Homo sapiens: one gene and its partners. The protein of the gene in region 2 purifies or fractionates together with the protein of the main gene of each other region. This does not show direct contact. Each region holds a gene or a part of one and is shown on either strand. Other genes may lie near its edges. The genes, in order: ABAT, ETFA and C8orf82.

The links.
Region 1: the proteins of ETFA (region 2) and ABAT fractionate together in Homo sapiens (co-fractionation; 2 studies listed by BioGRID). This does not show direct contact.
Region 3: the proteins of ETFA (region 2) and C8orf82 purify together in Homo sapiens (affinity purification with mass spectrometry; 3 studies listed by BioGRID and IntAct, with this or other methods). This does not show direct contact.

What each region holds. Positions count from the first base shown.
Region 1 is NC_000016.10:8,669,782-8,677,616, reverse strand, and holds the start of ABAT (4-aminobutyrate aminotransferase, mitochondrial isoform 1 precursor), read right to left. Parts: upstream 3,001-7,835; 5' UTR 2,906-3,000; intron 1-2,905. UniProt on the Homo sapiens protein: Catalyzes the conversion of gamma-aminobutyrate and L-beta-aminoisobutyrate to succinate semialdehyde and methylmalonate semialdehyde, respectively. Can also convert delta-aminovalerate and beta-alanine.
Region 2 is NC_000015.10:76,308,432-76,316,325, forward strand, and holds the start of ETFA (electron transfer flavoprotein subunit alpha, mitochondrial), read right to left. Parts: upstream 3,039-7,894; 5' UTR 2,958-3,038; coding exon 2,919-2,957; intron 1-2,918. UniProt on the Homo sapiens protein: Heterodimeric electron transfer flavoprotein that accepts electrons from several mitochondrial dehydrogenases, including acyl-CoA dehydrogenases, glutaryl-CoA and sarcosine dehydrogenase.
Region 3 is NC_000008.11:144,526,107-144,534,053, reverse strand, and holds the start of C8orf82 (UPF0598 protein C8orf82), read left to right. Parts: upstream 1-4,942; 5' UTR 4,943-5,137; coding exon 5,138-5,293; intron 5,294-5,981; coding exon 5,982-6,030; intron 6,031-6,266; coding exon 6,267-6,712; 3' UTR 6,713-7,947. Other genes in the region: ARHGAP39 (rho GTPase-activating protein 39), read left to right, coding at 729-928, 1,658-1,749, 3,183-3,352, 3,438-3,632.

The DNA of each region.
Region 1 (7,835 bases), on a different chromosome or scaffold from region 2:
TATCCTACAATACACAGGGGAGTCCCACAACAAAGAATCCTCTGACCCAACTGTCAACAGTGCCCAAAATGAGAACCCCTCATCTAGACCTGTCTCTTTTCTGATGTCCAACCCCAACAAACCTCATTCAAAGACGAGGAACTGAGGTTCAGAGACATGAATGACTTGCCTAAGTTTCCATAGACAGCCACTACCAGTGGCCAACTCTCTACTCCATCTGGCTTCAGGGTCTGTGGTCCATTCCACATACTACACTGTCTCTCTAGGAAGACATCCCCTTGTCCCCAGGCACCTTGGCCCTGGCAGATTATCTACGGCAAGGGTTACAAGTTTTGCCTTAAGGCATAAGCACCTCCCCACTTCATGATTAGAGGTTTTATGACTTTGCACTTGTAATCATTGTTTCTGCTCATTTTGCTGTGTGCTAAACATTTTATGAGGATTAACTCATTTTACCCCAAGGATATGTCACAGAGAGGTTAAGATCAGACACTAAGTGGCAGATTTGTGCTCTCGACCCAGATAAGAGGTCTCCAGGGACCAACCTCTCGGCCTCTCTACCGTGGTCCTCCTCATGCTTTGAACTTCGCCTTGGCAAAGTTGGGGCACAACAACCAATCCTTTAGCTGGGAACTGGGTGGGGGCAGAAACAGAGAGAGCCTCTACTTCAGACCATGCTGCCCAGCTGGGTGGTCCTAGAGAATCTGCCAGAATTTCAGCTCTTTTCCCATGCAATGCCCCAGGAGAAAAGACGCAGGCCTCTGAACAGAGATGAGACAATGTGCAGGGAACTCAAAGCCAGAGGGCGTGGGCAGGGGCTAAGAGGGAGGGGACCTTGGAGGGAAGGAATATGACATCCTCAGGACCTGTCCAAAGTTCTTGGAGCAAACCCAGCTATGCAAGTGAGGTTCCTGCAGTAGCCTCCACTCCAGCATCTCATTCTCATTAGCTGCAACTGATCTTATTAGCTATCCTGGGTCAGTTTGGATTTTGGCAAGCCTAGATTTGGCAATGGCCTCAACACAAAGATCGCACGGGGTAAGCAGGGATGCGCTGACACCCAGGAATGGATTCCACGAGGCAGCCTGCTGGGGGATGGCATTGAGTTCCAGCTCTGCCCCTTCCTGGCTTCATGACCTTTGCAGAGCCTTGGCGCTTCCTCTGACAAGTGGGGACTTGGGACCCAGCAGTCCCCAAGTCCCCATTGTAAATGTGAGGACTGGGGCTTGTGTCAGGGATCCTAGCACCTTAAGGGTCCTGGAGGGGTTGGGGCCAGCTGTCTCCCACAGGCTGGGTGACCTTGAGCAAGTCTCTTCCCCTTTTGTGCCTCTGTGTGTTTAACTGTCAAATGAAGGGGCCACGTCTTTAATGCAGAAGCCCTTTTAGGTCTTAGGACTCCAGACTGGACCATTTACCTCTCCCCGTGGCTAACCTCTTTGGGCCTCGAGAAAACACATTTCTCTATGACTCCACGCCGCAACACAGGCTCCAAAGAGCAAGACACAACTCACTGCCTCCCTCTCTCCTGCCTCCCAACCTGACCCACCAGAGAAGAGCTCTTCCCACCCCCTCCCCACCCCCAGGTCACCAACATCCTGTCCCTTAGTCTAGCTTCATCAAAGCAGCAAAGCCAACACTGTCTCCTCCCCAGTGGATGGGCCCAGCAGCACCCATTTCTCTTGGCTGAGTGCCCAGGGAATTCCACCAGGCAATGTCCACAGGCGCTTGCGGGGGTGCACACTTTAGGGGGGAAATGCGGGCCCTCTTGGAAGAGGGCCAGCTGTCCTCCCAGACTGCAAGAGAGAATGCATTGAACACAGCCTTTGTGCGTGTGTTGGGGCAGGGAGCGGGGGAGAGGTGGCGGGTGGTCTCTGCTGGTCCTGCTGCCTCAGAGGCCATCTCTGTTGTCAGAGTTTGAAGACTCCTGGAAGGGCCTCTAGGCCCCAGATCCCAGTTTTAAGAGCTCCAGTCTTACTAAATCTCGCTGAACCCCCTCTAGTCTTACCTTGGCCAGGGTGGGTGAGGAAAGGTGAGAGGATGTGAAATAGGTGGGGCAGCCAGGTGTGGGAGTGGAGTTGGGGTGAGGTGGAGAAGGATGGGATTGGGAGCGGTGGGAGGATGGTGCAGGGGGTTACTAGGATGGGGTTTGTGTGAAAGGGCTTGGGTGGAGTGGAGGGAGGTGGATGACTTGGAGGGGTGGCCAGACCTTTGCCCTGCTCCTGAGTATGAAGGTCCCTCATTTTACATCTTTACTGGGGAGGAGAGGGGAAATCCCCAAAAGCCTTTAATGTGGTGGTGTCAGAGGCCACCCTGCCTCTCTGACGGGTAGGGAGGGGTCTCCGGCAGGGCTAAGGGTGAATCATCTATCTCTCCAGAGCCCAGTATCTGGGGTGGGAGGGTGACTTGCAGAGTCTCTGCTCCGGGATTTCCTTGTCTTATGATGGGGGGAGAGCTTCCATTTGTCATGGAGGGGGAGGTCACTGTAATTTATAAGCTGAGAAGACCCCCATTATTCCGAAAGAGAGGGGAGAAGGAAGACACCCAAACTTAGTTTTCTAAGGATGGGGAAGGGGCATCAGTCTCCCAAGAGGTGAGGGGGCTCTAGAGACCTGGAGACCACTTTTTGGGGCCGCATTCTATTTCAAGCGGTAAAAGGGAGAGGACTTCTGTCTAGAGCTGGAGCCAGGAGGAAGGGCCCATTTCTGAAGGAGAAAGGAAGGTATTTTGCTCTCTGGGGGGTGGGAGCCCCTGTCTTTTCGGGGGAGGGCCCCGCGTCTTGGGAAGATGAGGGCTCCGTTTCCAGGAGAAGATGCCCAGGTTTTGCTCCTGGGGGCAGGGCAGAAGGACCTCCTCTCGGCTCCCCTCGGAAGGGCCCGTCCCAAGCCACCCGGCGCCTCGCGCTCACCTCCAGGCCCCGTCTCCGATCTGCGGGATCCGATCCGCCGGGTTCCGACTTGCGGGATGCGCGCCCCGAGTTCCGGCAGCGCTGGGTGTCTGCTCGACTTCCCCCAGCGACTCGCCGGACTCCCTGGCTCCGCCGAGCGTCCCGGCCAATCAGCGCCGCCAGCCCCGGCCCTCGCTTTCGCCACAGCCAATGGGTGCGCCCGCCACGGGCCACCGCCCCCAGGAGGGAGGTGGCAGGCGGGGCGGGGGCAGAGTCCAGCCTCCGGGGGCGGGGGAGACGGGGGCTGGGGCGGGACCCACCAGAGGGACCGCGAGGGCTGGGAGGGAGTCCTGGGACTGGGGAGGAGACGGCTGAGGACCCCCGTCAAGTTGTGGGGACCCTGACCCTCTGGGGGGCAGCTCCATAGGTTGATTTAACCTGGATCTTAATGGGCCATTTACACCCTCAGGGCTGCAGGCGAGTGTAACTCCACCTCCACCCGCGTCTCGGATCCGGTCTCTGGAGCTCCAGAGTCGGAATCAGAAGGGGTTCCTTTGCGGAGAAGGGAAGGAGCATCCCGCCCTCCCCACCTCACTCCCCATCTCGGCGCTCAGGGCCCTGCCAGCCCTTCTTGCTCCCAGCTACTTTCCTCCGCCTGGCCCCAGCGCTCCGGAAGACAAACAGGGCGCTGGGAGTCAGAGGTGGTTCCTTCTGCATGACCTGGAGCAGGTCACTGCGCCTCCTGATCCTCAATTTCCTGAAATTGGGACAACAGAGATTGTACCTCCTTCGTGGGTATAAACGAGACCCTAGATATGATGAAGGTGCCTTTCTACCGTTGTATAAAATGCTGTGTGGAAGATAATTAATACTCAGGTGTGACGGATGGATAGCCCCCCCACAGCTTTCTAGAGGTATTTGGAAAGAGGATGCAATCTTTCAGTGACAAAATCAAAGACACAAAGAACTGCTCATCAAGACAACAGGCGATCACCAAGTCCTCATAATGAATGAATGGATGGATGGAGAGTACAGACCTTAAAGGCAGAGAAAGAGTTCAGCTTGGTTCTCCCCACTCACCCTGATCACTGATAACTTGGTCTGTGGAGTCTTGTAGAACCCTGAGGTCTCTCCTCCTGCTGTCCAGGAATCCAGGCTGCCCTATCTCTGATTACACAAGCGCTATAGTCCTTGCAATTAAAGAATTAAGATAAAGTAAACACATAGATAAATAGAAAGCTGCCAAACAAATCATTCACCTCCTAGTGTCACCTCTGGGGACCCTCCCCCCCAACACACACACACACACACACACACACACACACACACACACACAGAGCAGTAAATAAGAATAATTGAGGCCTGGCACAGTGGCTTACGCCTGTAATTCCAGCACTTTGGGAGGCCGAGGCAGGCAGATCACTTGATGCCCAGAGCTCGAGACCAGCCTGGCCATCATGGGGAAACCCCCTTTCTATTAAAAATACAAAAATTAGCCTGGCATGGTGGCACCTGCCTGTAATCCCAGCTACCTGGGAGGCTGAGACATGAGAATCGCTTGAATGGAGAGGCAGTGGTTGCACTGAGGTGAGATGGCACCACTGCACTCTAGCCTGGGTGATTGTCACCTTGCTTGAGGAACTTGATGAGGCCTGTGCTGAAAATCTAGCAATTTTTTCTTAAAACCAAAGCCATGAACATAATCCCCTTTACTACCCTTGACCTGCCCAAAGAAATACAACGGCCAATAAACATGGGAGATGACACTTTGAAAAGGAAAGGCAAGTTAAAACCAAAAGAGGGAAAGAGTTTACCTACCAAAATGACCTTGTTTTTATTATTATAATTACTATTCTTTGCAAAGACTTCAAGGAGTTTCATGTATTGATGATGGCAGTAGAAAGATCACAGCCTTTCTGGAGGGAAATTGGGTATTTCTATTTTAAAAATCTTAAAAGTAAGTTGACCCTTTGATCTAGCAATCCAATCCCTATGAACTTATCTGAAAACATTTAAAGGTACAAAGATTTAATGATAAAGTAGCTTACTACCATTTTGTTTATCACAGGGAAAAACTGGGAACAACTTGAATGCACAACAGCAGGGACTCAGAGGGAAATTGTTGCATGAAATTGAACAATAAACATAGGTATGAAATATTGAATGGGGCTGGGTGTGGTGACACGCCTGTAATTCCAGCACTTTGGGAAGCCAAGGCAAGAGGATCGCTTGAGCCAAGGAGTTCAAGACCAGCCTGGGTAACATAGTGAAACCCTGTCTCTACAAAAAATACAAAAATTATCCGGGCGATGTGGCGCATGCATGTAGTCCCAGCTACTCAGGAGACTGAGGCAGCCTTGAGCCTGGGAGGTTGAGGCTGCTGTGGGCCAAGATTACACCACTGTACTCCAGCTGGGTGACAGAGTGAGACCCTGTCTCAAAAACAAAACAAAACAAATCTCAAAATGTTAAGTTATTTGCAAAAACAGTATATTTGGTACTGTCTTACTTTTTGTTAAACATCTTACTTTTTGTTAAATCTACCAGGTAGAGCTAGATCAATGCTGTGTAATATAACTTTCTATGATGCTCTATATCTGTGCCGTCCCGTGTGGTAGCCACTAGCCACATGGAGGTATTGAACACCTGAAATGACTAATTTTGGTATCCAAGATGTTTAAAAAAAAAAAAGAAAGAAAGAAATAATAAAAAAAGGAAAAGGGAAAAATAAATTTAAAATTTTGGAAAAAGCAATGACTAGTTAACCGAATAACTGTATTTTAATTGTATCTATTTATTTATTTTTTTAGAGACGGAGTCTCGCTCTGTCACCCAGGCTGGAGTGCAGTGGTGTGATCTCAGCTCGCTGCAACCTCTGCCTCCCAGGTTCAAGCGGTTCTCCTGCCTAAGCCTCCTGAGTAGTTGGGATTACAAGCGTGCTCCACCACGCCTGGCTCGTTGTTTAATTTTTTAATTTTTAGTAGAGACAGGGTTTCGTCATGTTGGCCAGGCTGGTCTCAAACTCCTGGCCTCCAGTGATCTGCCTGCCTCAGCCTCCCAAAGTGCTGGGATTACAGGTGTGAACCACCACGCCCAGCCTGTATCTAATTTTAATTTAAGGTGTAACAGTAACAGGTAGCTAGTGGCTATCATATTAAAAGGCACCGATATAGCTAGCTAGCAATGCTGAGTGAAAAACTGTGTTCAGTAGGAGAATGGTTATTTTTGTGTATTGAAATTATAGATTATTCTAATATTACTTTATTTGCATGTCCATGTCAGTAATTTCTTTTTATCCCCTTGGGTTTATTTTTAATAGAGGATAAACTTTACAATGTCACTAATTTCTAATTATTCTGTAATGAATATATATTACTCTGGTACTAAGAAGAAAATATTTAAAATGAAAAACAGAAAGGAAAAGTCTAAACCAAAGGGCCCGGAGTGGTGGCTCACACCTGTAATCCCAGTATTCTGGGAGGCTGAGGCGGGCAGATCACTTGAGGCCAGGGGTTCGAGACCAGCCTGGCCAACATGGCGAAACCCCATCTCTATTTATAAATAATTTTTTTTTAAAAAAGAGTCTAAGCCAAAGGTTGACAAACTATAGCTCATAGACCAAATGTAGTTCATCATGTTTTCCTATGACCATGAGCTAAGATTGGTTTTACATATTAAATGGTTAAAAAAATTCACAAGAAGAATAATGTTATGTGACACATAGAAACTACATAAAATTCAAATTTTACTGTGCATAAATAAAATTTTATGGGAACACAGCCAGGCCTATTTATTTATGCATTGTCTATGGCTGTCTGTGAGCTACAACAGCAGAGCTGAGTAGCTGTGACAGAGACTCTGTGACCTGAAAAGACAACAATATTTACCTTCCAGCCCTTTGCGAAAAATCTGCCGTGTCCTGGTCTAAGGCAATCAAGGGAAATAAGAAGTGTGTGTAGCCATCTTCATTCATCTGTTCATTCATTCATTCAACTAGGTTTTGAGCACCCATTTGTGGGTCAGGCCCTAGGAAAGGGCACTTCTAGAGGATAAAAGGAGCTGCTTTGTCTCTACTTAAGGACTAGGGAGAGAAGGCTATTTAGAGCCAGGTGCTTTGCAAGCTGATTCTCAAATAGCTTCATTGTGATACTTGTGAAGAAAACTGTCAGCATGTGGAAAAAGCCCTTTCCATATTGGCTTCCCTTGCATTTTCTGCCATTCTGCAGTTTTCCTATGGAGCTGCTTGGGGTTGCAGCTGTCTGCCAGGGAATGCAGAGTGTTTCCCAGAGTTTGGCTGAGGCCTGGGATGAAGACTCACCCATACTCTGTGCCTATCAATAAGCTCCTTCCAGAAGCGCAGCTGTAGCTGGGAGGGCCCCCACTGCACTCTGGAGAGGAGAAATGAAAACAAAGGCAAGGGTGAATGAGGCTCCAAGGGTACCAGTTGTCTCCACAGGAGAGACTCTTAGAGATCAGCAGCCCATTGTACAGAAGAGGAGACTGAGGCCCAGAGAGGAGGAATAACTTGTCCAGAGCCAGATTAAAGCACATATTTTATTGACTAGGCCTGTGATTTCCACATCCCTGGTCACAAAATAATAAAGAGATATCATCTATACAAAATAATAAAGGGCATTTTGATGTGGTGGAAAGGGGATCAACTTGGGAGTCAGACCTAATATTGAATTCTAGTTCCAACTCCCAATGGCTATGTGACTCTGGACATGTCATTTACTCCCTCTCAGTCTCTATGTTCTAATCTGTAAATTGAATAAAGTATCTACCACGTTTTCACATGTAAAAGAAAGAAGATAGACGCTTACCTCACACCATATAAAAAAACTAACTCAACATTGGATCAAAGACCTAAATAAATATAAGACCTAACACTATAAAATTCTTAGAAGAAAACATGGGAAGGGGGAACAGGTGCAATGGCTCACACCTGTAA
Region 2 (7,894 bases):
AACATTAAGTACCTGCTAATATGATGCACGGGGAACACAATACCACTTTTGTGATATTCCCACCAAGAATACATGACCTGAATCTAATCATGAGGAAACACCAGACAAACCCAAATTGAGTGACAGTCTGGAAAATAGAAGGCCTGTACTCTTCAAATACACCAATGTCATCAAACCCAAAGGAAGGCTGAGGAACCTTTCTAACAGAGTAAAGAGACATGAAAACCACTTGCAGGACATCTAGAGTATCTTAGACCAGAATAAGGAAAATTGCTATAAACTGTACTAATGGGACAACTGGCAAAATTGAACATCCATAGATTAGAAAACAGTATTTTATGGTGAAACTTCCAGATATTGCCAATTACAGTGTAGTTAGAAAGTGAACCTCTTTGTTCTTTTAAAATATCACTCAATTATTTAGGAGTAAAGGGCACATTTGCAACATACTTTCAAATGGTTCAGAAAGATAGTATTATGTATATATGTGGAAAGATAAAGCAAATGTGTCAAACTGCTAACATGCTGGGAAAACCAGGGGAAGGGTTTTGAGATTTCTTTGTACTATTCTTGCAACTTTTCTATAAGTGCAACTATTTCAAAATTTAAAAAGTTAAATACAGGTATATGTCCCTATTAATATATGGGTCCACTTTAGAAGTGTTGCCACCATTTCTTTTATGCTAGAAATCCAAATCTCTCCAACATTCTTAATGACTTTAAAACAGCTATTCTAGGCTGGGCGCGGTGGCTCACGCCTGTAATCCCAGCACTTTGGGAGGCCAAGGCGGGCGGATCATGAGGTCAGGAGATCGAGACCATACCGGCTAACACAGTGAAACCCCCGTCTCTACTAAAAATACAAAAAAATTAGCGGGGCGTGGTGGCGGGTACCTGTAGTCCCAGCTACTCAGGAGGCTGAGGCAGGAGAATGGCGTGAACCCGGGAGGCGGAGCTTGCAGTGAGCTGAGATCGCGCCACTGCACTCCAGCCTGGGCGACAGAGCGAGACTCCGTCTCAAAACAAACAAACAAACAAACAAAAAAAACAGCTATTCTACTTAGCTTGACTTCAAATTTTAAAAATAAGTCAAGGTCAAAGTCTTTGGCAAACCACAATGAATATCTGGAAGTAATGTCTATACACATTAGCCAACGATGTGGATAGTAAAAATTACTTAATCATTCCATTTTTTTCTGTTAGCTCTACAAAATTACTGAGTCCTAAATTCCATCCCCCACCACAATTATAATTTCACTTAGGCCAGACTTGTAATCTGTCCACAAAACTGTTTTCCAACTGCTGCATAGAGCAGCATTCTTCTGGCTCAGGTTCCTGGAATTTCCCCAAATTCATGATTTTCACTTGTTTATGTCTAGATCCCCAACCGGGAGAAAACATGTCCTGAGGGGAAGACAGGACACTAACCTGAAAGACATGGGTTTGAACTCTTTAGGGGAGGGGAGGGTCAGAACTTTTTATTAAACAAGGAATACGCACAAGAAAAAAGATGTCTAAGGCCAGGTGCGGTAGCTCAGGCCTGTAATTCCAGGACTTTGGGAGGCCGAGGCAGGTGGATCACTTGAGGACAAGAGTTCGAGACCAGCCTGGGTAACATGGGGAAACCCCGTCTCTACAAAAAAAAAAAAAAAAAAAAAAAAAAAATTAGCCAGGCGTGATGATGCGCACCTGTGATCCCAGCTTCTCGGGAAGCTGAGGTGGGAGAATCGCTTGAACCTGGGAGGCGACGGTTGCAGTGAGCCCATATCGTGCCACTGCACTCCACTCCAGCATGGGAAACAGAGCCAGACCTTGTCTCTTAAACAAACAAACAAACAAACAAACAAAAGTCTAATGTCTACAGACATCTAGAAAGAGCTCCAGCTATGCCTCAGAGAGAAAAATCCCAGGAGTGGATGGGAAAATATCCATGCCCAGAAAAAAAAAAAAAAAAAAAAAAAGGAGAAAAGGTACAAACCATCAGGTAAGTTTCTGACCCAAGTTTACCAATCTTGTTTCTCATTTCACCTAAATGTAAACTAGGAAAACTACACAATCCACAATATAAATTATTGTTACTTGACTTGTGACTGGTCAGTCTCCAAATACTCCTTTCCCACAGCATGAGAAGGAAAATATGTTTCCTATCAGTCCTTCTCACAACAGAAGAGAGAAATGTGGTTTGTCACTAATGAAACACTGAAAATGTACCACTGTCACCAGTTAACCTAATCTACAATCTGCTGGTTAAAAGCAGGTCAGCCTGAAGCATATAAAAAGACGTCTGCCTTTCAAAACTGGCTAAAGCTGTCAAATCGGATCGCAGGTTTTACAAATACAATCACCTAAATTCAGCCCTGCTCCATAAACCAGAAAGCAGAACCAGCTTCCATAACTGGCCACGCAGCCTCCCACCCCACCCCACCCCCGCCCTTGACAGTGAGTGGGTCGGAGTAGCCACGATGCGCCCAAAGTGTTTAATTCTTCCAGAAATGCCGGCCTCCGGGAGGAATCTAGGTTTGAAACTTTCCCCAACAGGGCATTCCCCGGTGACATTTTGCTCCCTCGGGTGTGGAGCAAGTGTGGAGGACCTGGCGGCCCGAAAGTGCCCAGAGTGACCGACAAAGGTGGGAAACGGCAGGGCAGAGAGTGGGCCAGAAGAAGGGGCAGCAGACGCGCAAATTCACATCATTCGGGGTCACCCTGACCCCAAACCTCTGACTTCTGCCCCGAACTGGCGTTCCGCAGGGAGTCCAGGGTAGGCCCCAGAACTTTGGACCCAAGTCCCAGGCGGGGACCGGCCTGCGGGCGCGAGGGCTGGTCGAATCTGAGGGGGCCAGTGATCTTTGCAAGACCCCATAGGGACGGCGGGTTGACGGGGGGCCGTCCCTGGGTTCGCCTTCCCAGTCCGGACTCACCGCCCGCCGGAGCTGCCCCGGAGCCGCCGCTCGGAACATGGTCTCCGCTTCCGCCGCAACCTCGGCCTTACAGCAGCCCCGTGCCCGGCCAACTGGCGCCGCCTCAGCCAGTCACCTAATGCTCGCGAGACGCGCGAACGAGATAAGACGCCCTAGGCCGGGAGCACGAGCCCGCGGTTTCCGCCTGCCCATTGGGCGGCTGCGCAGCCAATAGACGGCGGGAAGTTAGGGGCTAGACTGGGAAGTGGGGCAAAGGTGAGGCTATTCCCCGGGGACCTTCGAGTAAGCCCGGGCCGCGGAGCGGCAGAGACAAAGCTGGCCACCCGCTGATGACCGAGCTCAGACTGTACTGTCTCACAGCCCCGCAATGGTCAGCACTGCTAGAGTGAACTTCAAAACTGAGCTGACCTCGGGGTAAGGTACGAGTGGAGCCTTGCCAATTCCAATTAGATACCTTTCCTATATGCCCCTATTTCCCCCTGTATTTCCCCATGGTAGCAATTGTCACATGGGTTGTAATAACCTAAGTACTTGTCTGTGTCACCCATCTGACTGAAGATCTGTAAGGGCAGAAAGTATGCCCTTTTTTTTTTTTTTTTTTTTGAGAGAGAGAGAGTCTCCCTCTGTCACCCTGGCTGGAGTGCAGTGGCGCGAGCTCAGCTCACTGAAAGCTCCGCCTCCCGGGTTCACTCCATTCTTCTGCCTCAGCCTCCCGAGTAGCTGGGACTACAGGCGCCCGCCACCACGCCCAGCTAATTTTTTTGTATTTTTAGTAGAGACGGGGTTTCACAGTGTTAGGCAGGATGGTCTCGATCTCCTGACCTCGTGATCCGCCCGCCTCGGACTCCCAAAGTGCTGGGATTACAGGCGTGAGCCACCGCGCCCGGCCAGTATGCCCTACTTTTAAATTTTGTGTCTACCTGCAACACCTAGCACAATGCCTGGTCCATACTAGGCATTCAATCAGTATGTGTTGAATGAATAAGCAAATGAATAAATGACTGCTAATGAGTCTGGACTTTAACACGAAATTTTTAAGAGGGAAGTGGTATGTTCAGAAATTGTCTCAATTCCCAATTCAGCAACAACCTACCTTTCCAATGTTATCTAGTCTATCAACAAATCCCGTTGACTCTACCTTCAAAAGATAACCAGAATCCAGCAATATCCTCCAACACCCCTTTGCTCCTCTGCTGGTATCACCTTCACTCAGGACCCTGTCCTCTCTCGCCTGGATCATTGCAAAGCCTCCTAACTGGTCTTTCTGTTTCTGCCCATGTTTCCAGAAGCCTCTTCTCCAAACTGATGGACTGATCATGACCTCTGCTCAAAGCCCTATGGTGGCTCCCTCTCCTCCCACTGCCCTCTTCTCTCACTGTTCCCCAGATACATAGGCCTTCTTGAGCACACAAGCCTGCTCCTCTCAGAGTTTTGCACTCTGGCTCTTCCCTCTGCCTGAAATGGCCTTCTCTTGTTACCCGCGTGGCGTACTTCCTCACTTCATTCAGGTCTCTGCTCAAAAAACACATTTGCAGAAAGGCCGGCCTTAGCCTCTCCACCTAAAATAGCACCCATGCCACTCCCAGACGCCCTATCACCTTGTTTGATTTTTTTTCTTGGCATTTATCACTGCCTAACAGGATGCACATGTTTGTTTATTGCTGATCTCACTGCATTGGAGTGTAAATTCCCTGAAGCAAGAGCTTTGTCTGAACTAACAAGCACTCTAAGGGCCTTGCGCTTTTGCTCTTCCCTCTGTCTGAAATTCCCTTCCCCATCTGACAGCCCTCTTTAAAACCCAGATCAAGTGACAATTCTTTTGTTCTGTTTAAGACAAGGTCTCACTCTGTTTCCCAGGCTGGAGTGCGGTGGTGCCATCACAGCTCACTGCAGTCTCGAACTCCTGGGATCAAGCAATCTTCCTGCCTCAGCCTCCCAAGTAGCTGGGACTACAGTCATGTGCCACCATGCCCAGCTATTTTTTTTTGTAGGGGCAGGGTTACCCAGGGCTGGTCTCGAACTCCTGGCCTCAAGTGATCTTCCCACCTTGGCCTCTCAAAGTACTGGGATTACAGACATGAGCCACCACGCCTGGCCCAAGTGACATTTCTTTTGTAAGCTCTTTCTCAATTCTGCAGGATGAATTAATCCTTTCCTCTTCTTCACTCTTGTAGCTCTATGAACAAGGAGGTGAGGACCCATCTTAAACTTAAGTTGCACCCACTTCGAACACGTCTGAACTCATGTTGCCGACAGAGCTGTGGACCCCTGTCCCCCAGTCAATCTGCCTGTGGGAGGGGCAATTTAGTATTCCATGTCTCACTGCATTTACCTCCTAACCAGTCCCACACTGGACTAGAATCTGAGACCTATGGGAGTGGAAGGAAGAGGGAAGGGTACTTTTAGTAAAAACAGAAAAGGATATTTTACTAAAAACCATATAAAAAACTGGGATACAAACTAACCTCCTTCCCTACCTCCCCACCCATGACAAAGCGAAATACAAGGGGAGAGCGGCTGCCCCGCCCTGCCCCCACTGGGCAGATTCAACAGCTCCCAGGCTTGGGCAAATCAGCAGCAGCTGTTCACCCCAGAGTCTCGTTGCCCCTGGGGGTTCCTGGTGGAGCAGTTCAGAGCAGAGGGAGAGGCTAAAAATGGGCAAAGTCTGTGACACCTGACCAGACCTGTTCTGATCACACATGAAACGCCCCCTGAGGCTTTGGGATGTATCAGGGTTCTACAATCACAACCAGGTTATGTACCACAGAAATGTGTGTGCTAAGACATTTCTATTAGAAGATTTTCCCTAGAGGCATATGACTTTCCCACTCCATTAGGAGCCGCTTTGGTGGCAGGACCTATGGTTTCCTTTTATTTACTTATTTTTATTTTATTTATTTTGGAGACGGAGTCTCACTCTGTCACCCAGGCTGGAGTGCAGTGGCGCGATCTCGGCTCACTGCAACCTCCACCTCCCCTCAGTTTCAATGGATTCTCTTGCCTTAGGCTCCCAAGTAGCTGGAATTACAGGTGCCCACCACCATGCCCAGCTAATTTTTGTATTTTTAGTAGAGATGGGGTTTCACCATGTTGGTCAGGCTGGTCTCAAAGCCCTGACCTCAGGTGATCTGCCTGCCGTGGCCTCCCAAAGTGCTGGGATTACAGGCGTGAGCCACCGTGTCCAGCCTATTTATTTGCTTCTTATTTTTAGATGTTCAGCAAACATTTGTAGAAATATGTGTCCAATGGGCTAGGTGCAATGGCTCACACCTGTAATCCTAGCAATTTGGGAGGCCGAGGCGGGCGGATCACTTGAGGTCAGGAGTTCAAGACCAGCCTGGTCAACATGGCGAGACCCTCCCCCCACCTTCACTACTAAAAATACAAAAATTAGCCGGGTGTGGTAGCATGTTCTTATAATACCACCTACCCCTGCAGCTAAGGCATGAGAATCACTTGAACCTGGGAGGCAGAGGTTGCAGTGAGCCAAGATTACACCACTGTACTCCAGCCCGGATGACAGAGCAAGACTCCATCTCAAACAAAAAAAAAAAAAAAAAAAAGAAAGAAAGTAAATATTTGTCCAAAGAAGAAAGGGCAGAAAAGAGAGGGTGGAGGAAGGAGGATTCAAGGACTACCACAGTCAACCCTTGAAGATGACTCCAGCATATTTGGAGCAACACCTCTTTCTTCTCCACAGGCCAATTTCAGGAGCAGCTCCTCCAGGATTCCTGCTGGAAACTTAGAAGAGAAAGGTCCCTGGGACCAACTACAGCCCTAGCTGCTGCAACTTTCTGGGGGTCACAATGGTACTTATCGTCTCCTTCCTCAGTATCCATTCTAAATCTCCCCCTCCCTCAGCTAGCACCTCCCCTGGTTTGAGTGGCTAATGCCTCCATCCTGCCTCGTGGACTGAAGATCTCAACCCCTGACCAGCATGCCCTTCCCAAGCCTGTTTATTGTCATAATTGGGCAATGGAGGACTCAGAGGCACCCAAGTAGGTTACTCTTAGCCAAGATGACTCCCCTTCTGGTCTTCTGGTCCCTGCATACAAGGTGCCCAGGTGGCAGCTGTAGCTTATAGCTCAGAGGACCCTTGCTGTGTCCTCTGGTGAAAGATTCCCCTTTGGGGACAAAGACCTCTAACCCTGCAGGTCCCAGCACTATATAAAGGTCTTTGGTTCAAGGAGTATCCTAGAAGATGAACCCCACCCTTATCAAGTGCTGTCTCCAAGCTGCTGCTTCCAGTGGGCCTTCAGCAGCCATTCCGATATCCTGTCAGGCTGGCAGTGTCTGGATGATCCAGCCTGTGAATCGCTTAGGGAATCCTCTGATCACGGACTCATTTCTGCACCTCCATTGCAGTAAATTGGGTCCCTGGCCTGATGGATGTTATGTGGGATCCTGTGACAGTGAATCAGATACTCGATAAGCCCTCAAATAGTGGTGCTGACTAAGGTCCTGAGAACAGGAAAGGTAAACAGTACCCAGAATATATGCGTTTTCTTGACATGGTGAATCTCGACTTTTTCCAGATGAAAGGGGTTCCATGTGGTTAGGATGAATCTTGCCTTTTCCAAGATAGAAGGGGTTCCATGTTGTCAACTTGCACCGTGGAGCCAGCTGGTCTTCTGGAGGAATGGTGCCATATTGGGGGCTCATTCAGCAGTGGCAGTAGCTCAATCAGGCTTCGTAAGTGGGAGCCCATGCTATTAGGCTCCTGCTGCCTCTGTCTCTGCCACTGTAGTCATTTCATGCATGTGCCCTTAGTACCAGCACTAGGTGGCTGATGACAGAGGCCGACTAAGGTCAACTGGCCCAGATATTTTTGTCCTCTTAGTTACATGGTGGCTTTTCAATGGTGGATGGTTTCTGGTGGGTGTTAACATGTAATACAAACATCTTCATACTTGGTGCCCACTCCAGACACCTATCCTCATGCCCCTACCCCAGACCTCCCTGTCCCCCATCTTCCA
Region 3 (7,947 bases), on a different chromosome or scaffold from region 2:
GCCTGCAGTTTGGTATGGGGCAGCAGCGCAGAGGGTGCCACATGGAGCCCGCCTAGGCGGGTGGCGGGGTACGCTAGGCTGACCCCGTGTTCTTCTGGGCTGCACCCTCCCCCGGGGGCTCTTCCTGGGCCCGGACCCCCAGCTCAGGAGCAAGGCAGGCAACGGGCTCAGTCACACCGCACCACAGGGACAGGACCCCGTTCCCTGGACCTGTCCCAAGAGCCTGGCCCCTTCCCCACATCCTCTTCTCTCTGATGCGCTGCTCCCATCATACCCCTCCCCAGCGCTCTCAGCCCTGCCACAGACTTCTGGAAGTTTCACCCCAGCTCAGCTAGCTTGGCCTCTGCTGTGCTCCCCAACAGCCCTGGCCGGCCCAGGACTCACTCCCACCTTCCCAAGGGCCCCTGTGAGCTGGTGCTGTAGACGGTGACTCTGGCCAGGGAGCTGGGCTTGTCCGTAGCTCTAGTTGGAGCCAGGAGTTCACAGGGATGAGAGGAGGGGGAGGCAGAGCCAGGGGCAGCCCAGGAGGAGTTAGGGTTTGGGGGGCGAGGAGGGCTGGTCCAGGGATGGACAGTGGCCTGGGGAAACACCACACTCGGACCCAGGTGTGTGGGGCAGGAATTCTGAAGAGCGCCACCCACCTATGTTCGGGGAAAGAAGACAACCGGGGTGGCGGGGGGTCCTGAGGATGGCCAGGCCAGACCAGGACGGAGCCTCTGTCTTCACAGGGGCTGAAGAAGCCCAACGTGGAGGAGATCCGGCATGCCAAGAACGCCGTGTTCAGCCCGTCCATGTTCGGCAGCGCACTGCAGGAGGTCATGGGCATGCAGAGAGAGCGCTACCCCGAGCGCCAGCTGCCCTGGGTGCAGACACGGCTCTCTGAGGAGGTGCTGGCGCTCAACGGTGACCAGACAGAGGGCATCTTCAGGTGCCACGGCAACCCCGGGCGCCGGGTGTGGGGGCCACAGCCATGTGTCCACCATGCATCTGTGGCATGCAGGGGCCATTAAGCCTCAGGCCCACTGGGCTGCTTCCGCACCCATACCTGAGAGCAGATGGAAGGGTGGGGCCACAGTGTGGAAGCTGACCCTGAGGGTGTGCAGGCCAGGAGAGAGGGCAGGACCCATTCCAAAGAGGCAGCACAGCCAGCCAGGGAGGGCGCCCCTGCAGAGACGGCCACCAGGGGTCCAGAGCGTGCTTGGACACCAGCCATGGGTAGCCTGGAGTGGGAGCCTCAGATGACAGGCAGCCCTTGTCTGTGAACAGGGATGGCACAGGGTGCCACCCACTCCCATGACTCACCTGTCAGGGCAAGGGGTACCCAGGCCCCAGGAGGGCAGCTGGGGAAACTGAGGCTTGCAGGTTGAGCCCCAGTGGCCCTTTGGTGAGGGCATCCACCCAGGGAGCCAGCAGGGGTCCAGGGAGGGACGGTGGCCTGGGGAAGCACCACACTCGGACGCAGGTGTGTGGGGCAGGAATCCTGAAGAGCGCCACCCACCCACGTTCGTGGGAAAGAGGCCAACCGGGGTGGCGGGGGGTCCTGAGGTTTTGCTCCCCTCCCCGGGTCAGCAGGGGCCTACCGGAGGGAGTGTCCAGGCGGAATCATGAAGCCGCAGCACAGGCTCCTGTTGCCTGAGACCTGCCCTGTGCCCTGCAGGGTCCCTGGGGACATTGACGAGGTGAATGCCCTGAAGCTGCAGGTGGACCAGTGGAAGGTGCCCACAGGCCTGGAAGACCCCCACGTCCCTGGTGAGTCCCCCACACACGCTGCAGCAGAGCGGGCCTGGCTCAGGCAGTGGTTCTCAGGGGCCCCTGTCTCCGCCTCTGGGGTCCACCCTGATCCTGCCCAGTGATGTGATGGCTTCCCAGTCACTTCTAGCACATCCTCCCTTCTGCCCATTGGACAGTTTCCCCAGGTGTCTGCTGGGCACCCCGAGGCCTACCTGTGCAATGCAGCCCACTCCCCACCTGCTGCTCCCTGCCCTGTGCCCTTCTGCCGTGCCTGCTATGTCTAGCCTACTCCCCACCTGCTGCTCCCTGCCCTGTGCCCTTCTGCCGTGCCTGCTATGTCTAGCCTACTCCCCACCTGCTGCTCCCTGCCCTGTGCCCTTCTGCCGTGCCTGCTATGTCTAGCCCACTCCCCACCTGCTGCTCCCTGCCCTGTGCCCTTCTGCCGTGCCTGCTATGTCTAGCCCACTCCCCACCTGCTGCTCGCTGCCCTGTGCCCTTCTGCCGTGCCTGCTATGTCTAGCCCACTCCCCACCTGCTGCTCCCTGCCCTGTGCCCTTCTGCCGTGCCTGCTATGTCTAGCCCACTCCCCACCTGCTGCTCCCTGCCCTGTGCCCTTCTGCCGTGCCTGCTATGTCTAGCCTACTCCCCACCTGCTGCTCCCTGCCCTGTGCCCTTCTGCCGTGCCTGCTATGTCTAGCCCACTCCCCACCTGCTGCTCCCTGCCCTGTGCCCTTCTGCCGTGCCTGCTATGTCTAGCCCACTCCCCACCTGCTGCTCCCTGCCCTGTGCCCTTCTGCCGTGCCTGCTATGTCTAGCCCACTCCCCACCTGCTGCTCGCTGCCCTGTGCCCTTCTGCCGTGCCTGCTATGTCTAGCCCACTCCCCACCTGCTGCTCCCTGCCCTGTGCCCTTCTGCCGTGCCTGCTATGTCTAGCCCACTCCCCACCTGCTGCTCGCTGCCCTGTGCCCTTCTGCCGTGCCTGCTATGTCTAGCCTACTCCCCACCTGCTGCTCCCTGCCCTGTGCCCTTCTGCCGTGCCTGCTATGTCTAGCCCACTCCCCACCTGCTGCTCGCTGCCCTGTGCCCTTCTGCCGTGCCTGCTATGTCTAGCCCACTCCCCACCTGCTGCTCTCTGCCCTGTGCCCTTCAGCTGTGCCTGCTCTGCAGACACCCCCTCACGGTGGCTACACAGACGACTCCTGAGAAAAATCCTGTTTTGCACAACTCTGCTGGCGTGACCCACATGCCTCCAGGATCGAGTTCAGGCCCCCAGGAGCCGAAAGGCCCTCTGGGGTCAGGGCCCAGCCTGGCCAGATGGGCCCTGTCCAGAATGAGCCGGCCCTCCCAGCCTGTCCCCCACAGCACCCCTCCATGCATGTCCGCCACGGGACCCCATTTGGCCCAGGGGTGCCCGCCGAGCAGGGCCGCTGAGCCCCGTGCTGTGTCCCCAGCGTCCCTGCTGAAGCTGTGGTACCGGGAGCTGGAGGAGCCCCTGATCCCGCACGAGTTCTACGAGCAGTGCATCGCGCACTACGACAGCCCCGAGGCGGCGGTGGCCGTGGTGCACGCGCTGCCCCGCATCAACCGCATGGTGCTGTGCTACCTCATCCGCTTCCTGCAGGTACTTCCCTCCCCGGGGGTCCCCGCTGCTTTCCCCTCCCCGCCCCGCCCCCGCCCCTCCGCGCCCACCCTCGCTCCTCCACCAGGTCTTCGTGCAGCCGGCCAACGTCGCGGTCACCAAGATGGATGTCAGCAACCTGGCCATGGTGATGGCGCCCAACTGCTTGCGCTGCCAGTCCGACGACCCGCGCGTCATCTTCGAGAACACCCGCAAGGAGATGTCCTTCCTGCGGGTGCTCATCCAGCACCTGGACACCAGCTTCATGGAGGGTGTGCTGTAGCGGGGGCGCCCGGGGACAGGAGGGATGTCCTGCCGCCCCCAGCCAGGCCGAACTCCGCACTCGCTCTCCCGGCAGAGGGGCCAGAATCGCCCGGCCCAGCCCTGGAGCCCCCTCCACTCCCCCAGGCCCCTGGCCCCGGCGCTCCCCACGTCTTCTGCCTGGTCTGAGGGTGCAGCCAGGGCACAGCAGCGGCGGGGAGGGCGCCTCTGGCCCCCCACCTCACGGCCAGTTCCCGCGGGCACCGCCTCGCCCTCCGCTGGCCGCGGGTCAGCTCCGAGAAAGTGCCTTCTGTGTCCTGGAGCCGAGCGACGCTGCCTCCTTGGGGCCGGGCTGCCTCCCTGTGGCTCCTGCGCGCCCTGGCCTGGGCCTTGCCCAGCCGCCCCGGTCTCTCCTTCCCTTTCTCCTGTCCTCGTCCTGGCCTGCAGCTCTTCCCAGCCCCGAGAGAGCTTCCCGACCTGTCCCCGCCTCCTCTCCCTCCCTCGGCCCGTGGTCCCCAGCTGGTGACTGCTCAGGAGTTTGGGGGCTCCAGGACAGTGGGCCCGGGGCCTGGCAGGCTCTCGGTGGGTGGGGTGGGGGCCCCCAAACCAAAGTCCTCTGGGGTAGGGAGCAGGGCTGGGCAGGCATTCTGGGGGCAGGGTGGGGGAGGGGCGAGAGTATTTTTTTCTTCGTGTAACTGTAAATCCAGAATCTATCCTGCATCGCAGCCCACCGTGTATAGAGATATAAATAGAGGGAAAGATATAAGAACTAAATTTGCTAATGACATAGTTTTAACCTAAATGCTATTTATCTCTGAGCCGTCCCCGTCCTCCGTGCAGAGCAAGTTGAGGTCATTCCTTCTTTTCTTCTCCGATCTTTTTTCTTGGCTTCTGACCAAAAACCAAGCTCTACCCCATCCCCATCCCAGACCTGCAGGAGACGAGCGAGCGGGAAGGCGCCGGGCCCGGGACTGTCCGTTCTCGGGGCCAGAGCTGCTGGGGGACCGAGTTTGTACATTTTCCATTTTGGAATTTTGAGTTCCAATTGTTGTAAAACTTAATTTCTCCCCAGTTTTTATATATATATTTTTTAGAGTTCCGTTTTTATTTATTAAAAACAAAAGCCCCAGCCCTGCCGAGGCCTGGGCGGCGTCCTCAGTCGGGTGGTCCCGGGGCCTTTGCGGTCCCGCCCGGCTGAGACGCTCGCCCCGACGCATGGACCCGAGAGGCGACGACACGAGTGAATAAAGTGCACATGGACCCTGCGCGTCCTCCCGTTCCTTGTGGGCGCGGCCGGGGGCGGGAAGAGACGCGGGGCGGACCGGAAGGGGCGTCACCGGCACACGCCTCTCGGAAGGCCAGGGCGGGCGAGCCCCCGAGGCCCGAGGGAGAGGGAAGAGCGCCGGGCCCGGGTCGCGGAGGCGGGCGCCGCCGGAACGCGAAGCGCGGGGCTACTGCGGGCAGGCGCGAGTTCGCGCAGCACCGCCCCCGGCGTGACCTGCTGGTCGCTTCCGGCGCGGGAGGAGAATGTGGCCGCCTTGCGGGACGCTCCGGACCCTGGCCTTGGCGCGGTCGCGGGGAGCCCGGGCCTGCAGCGGGGATGGGGGCGTTTCCTACACGCAGGGCCAGAGTCCGGAGCCGCGGACCCGCGAGTATTTCTACTACGTGGACCACCAGGGCCAGGTGGGCGGGGGCAGGGCCGTTGCTCGAGAGGCGGGGCCGGGAGAGGTCTCTGGGCGGGGCGGGGGGGGGGGCGTGGCTCTGTGGGCGGGACCATTGCTCGAGGGGCGGGGCCGGAGGGACGTTCCAGGGGGTGGGTGGGTGGGCGGGGCCTGCGCGGTGGGCAACCTCGACTCCTCAGAGCTGGAGGAGAGCGCGCTGGAAAGACGGGGAGTTGGGTCGGTCCGGGCCGAGGCTCCTACATGGGCCGCGTCCCTGCTGCGTTGTGCAGCTTCGGACTCTGTCCTACAAGTCCCCAGCCCCGGCGCTGACTTCTCGCCGCTGCCAGGGAGACACCCGGGCCGCCCTGCCTTTTTTTGGAAGCCCTGTCAAAAGGCAGCTGCATGTCCGGGAGGCAGCAGGCCAGGTAGTCTCCGCGGAGGAGGTGGTACAACTGATTACAAACTTGAAAAGAGGGAAAAGGTGCGGGAAAGAATTGGCTGACCAGGGAGCAGAGGTGCGCATAGACGCGGATAAGTCGGCGGGGCCCCCAGGTTTACCTTTCACGCGCCTCCCTGCATGCGGTGTGCACAGACAAGCAGGAAAAGTGGGCTCGGGCCGGTTCAGGACCTCCCGAGCTTCAGGACCTCCTGAGCTTCCCCGCCCCCACCTGCACGCTGGGACTTATCACGGCCTGGCCCTCTATCTGCAGCTTTTCCTGGATGATTCCAAAATGAAGAATTTCATCACCTGCTTCAAAGGTAATGCTGTGCCTCCCTCTCCAGCCCCTTCTTTCTCCCTTCCGGGCAGCCCCTGATGGGCTCCCCGACTCTGCCGACGGGCCCAGCGCACCAAGGAGTGGGCGTCCTGCGCTCAGGAGCCCCGCTGAGTGAGGCCAGGCGAACCTCTTACCGTCGGCGCCTGCCCTCGGTATGGTCCTGGGCCCGGAGGCCTTGGGAGCCCAGCGCGCTGAGTACACGCACCCTTCATCCCCCAGACCCGCAGTTCCTGGTCACCTTCTTCTCCCGCCTGAGACCCAACCGCAGCGGGCGCTACGAGGCCGCTTTCCCCTTCCTCTCGCCCTGCGGCAGAGAGCGCAACTTCCTGCGCTGCGAGGACCGGCCGGTGGTCTTCACGCACCTGCTGACCGCGGACCACGGGCCTCCGCGCCTCTCCTACTGCGGCGGTGGCGAGGCCCTGGCCGTGCCCTTCGAGCCGGCGCGCCTGCTGCCCCTGGCCGCCAACGGGCGCCTGTACCACCCGGCGCCGGAGCGTGCGGGCGGCGTGGGCCTGGTGCGCTCCGCCCTGGCCTTCGAGCTCAGCGCCTGCTTCGAGTACGGGCCCGGCGCGCCTGCGCTGCCCTCGCACGTGCGCTGGCAGGGCCGCCGCCTCGCCCTCACCATGGACCTGGCCCCGCTGCTGCTCGCGGCTCGGTCGCCCTGAGCGGGGCCAAGGGAAAGGCGGGAGGCCGCGGGCGCCTCTCGCCCCGCTCCCCCGGGACTCCACGCCCCGGAAAGCCCGCGCCACCCGCGCTCGCGGCAGCCTAGTGCGCCTGCGCGCTCGGCCCCGCCCCCACCCGGCGCTGTCCTTGGTGCTGCCGCGGCCCGGCCCTCCCGGACACCCCGCTCCCCACGGCGCGCGCCCCCCGCGCACCCGACTCCGGCGCCCTCCGGATTGGCCTGCGCTCGAGACGTCAGGCACTGGCGGCGGGCGCGGGGCTCTGGTGCGCGTGCGCGAGCGTCCCCCGCCCCCTCCCAGCCCGGCGACTGCTCGGGCCCGGCCGCCACCTGCACGGCGGGGGAGCCGCTCGCCGCGGGAGCGTCAGGTGAGGGGACGCCCGACCCAAGGTCACCAGGCGTGGGGGCGCTGGGGGATCGGGGACCATCCCGGCTCTGACCCTGGTGCGCTCCGAGAAGGGCGTGGGTCCTGGAGGGGGATGGGGAACGCGGAGGCCACGCCCTCCCTGAGCCCGGCCGAAAATCAACCGGCTCTCGTGGGTAGCAGAGGAGGCCGTGGGGGATACAGGCACCAGGTCGCAGCGCTGCAGAGGTGCGCAAGGGCCGCCCAAAGACCAGCTTGGGCCTCGCACTGCGCCCGAGGCAGACACAGGGCGTTCCATCCTCTTCCCTCCCCGCTCCCGCACAGAGGGGCGCCCAGGAGGCAGTGACAGTCGTCGCGGAATCCTGCGTGTGACACCCCGCCCCTGCCCAGCGGATTAGGGAGTTGTCCTCTGGTAAAAGGATTTCTGGGCTGCTTCCAGCTTGGGGCCCTCATCCCTGCCCTGGCAGGCCTTTCTACACCGATCTGCATCTAGTGGGGGGTCAGCGTGAGCAGCAGCGCCGTGAGTTCTGAGGCCAAGAACCTTCTCCACTTGAGAAGCCTTCCTGGGGGAGGCTGAGTGGGCCAGGCCTGGAGCCACGTACCAACACTTTATACCCAGGGGAATGGATCCCAAGGGCCCAGATAACGCCCCCAACTTCTTGGGGTTCACACGCGTCCTGAGACATCTGGGAACTGCCTCTGCCTGGGCCAAAGCTATTCCATTAAAACTTTATTGCTGTGCTTACTTATTTCTAGTGACTTTAAATAATCATGTGAGTTACAATTTAGGGCAAGATTTAAACACCAAGGCCACTTGGTCCTGTCCCTTTCCACATGACTCGAAAGGAGGAAGAGCT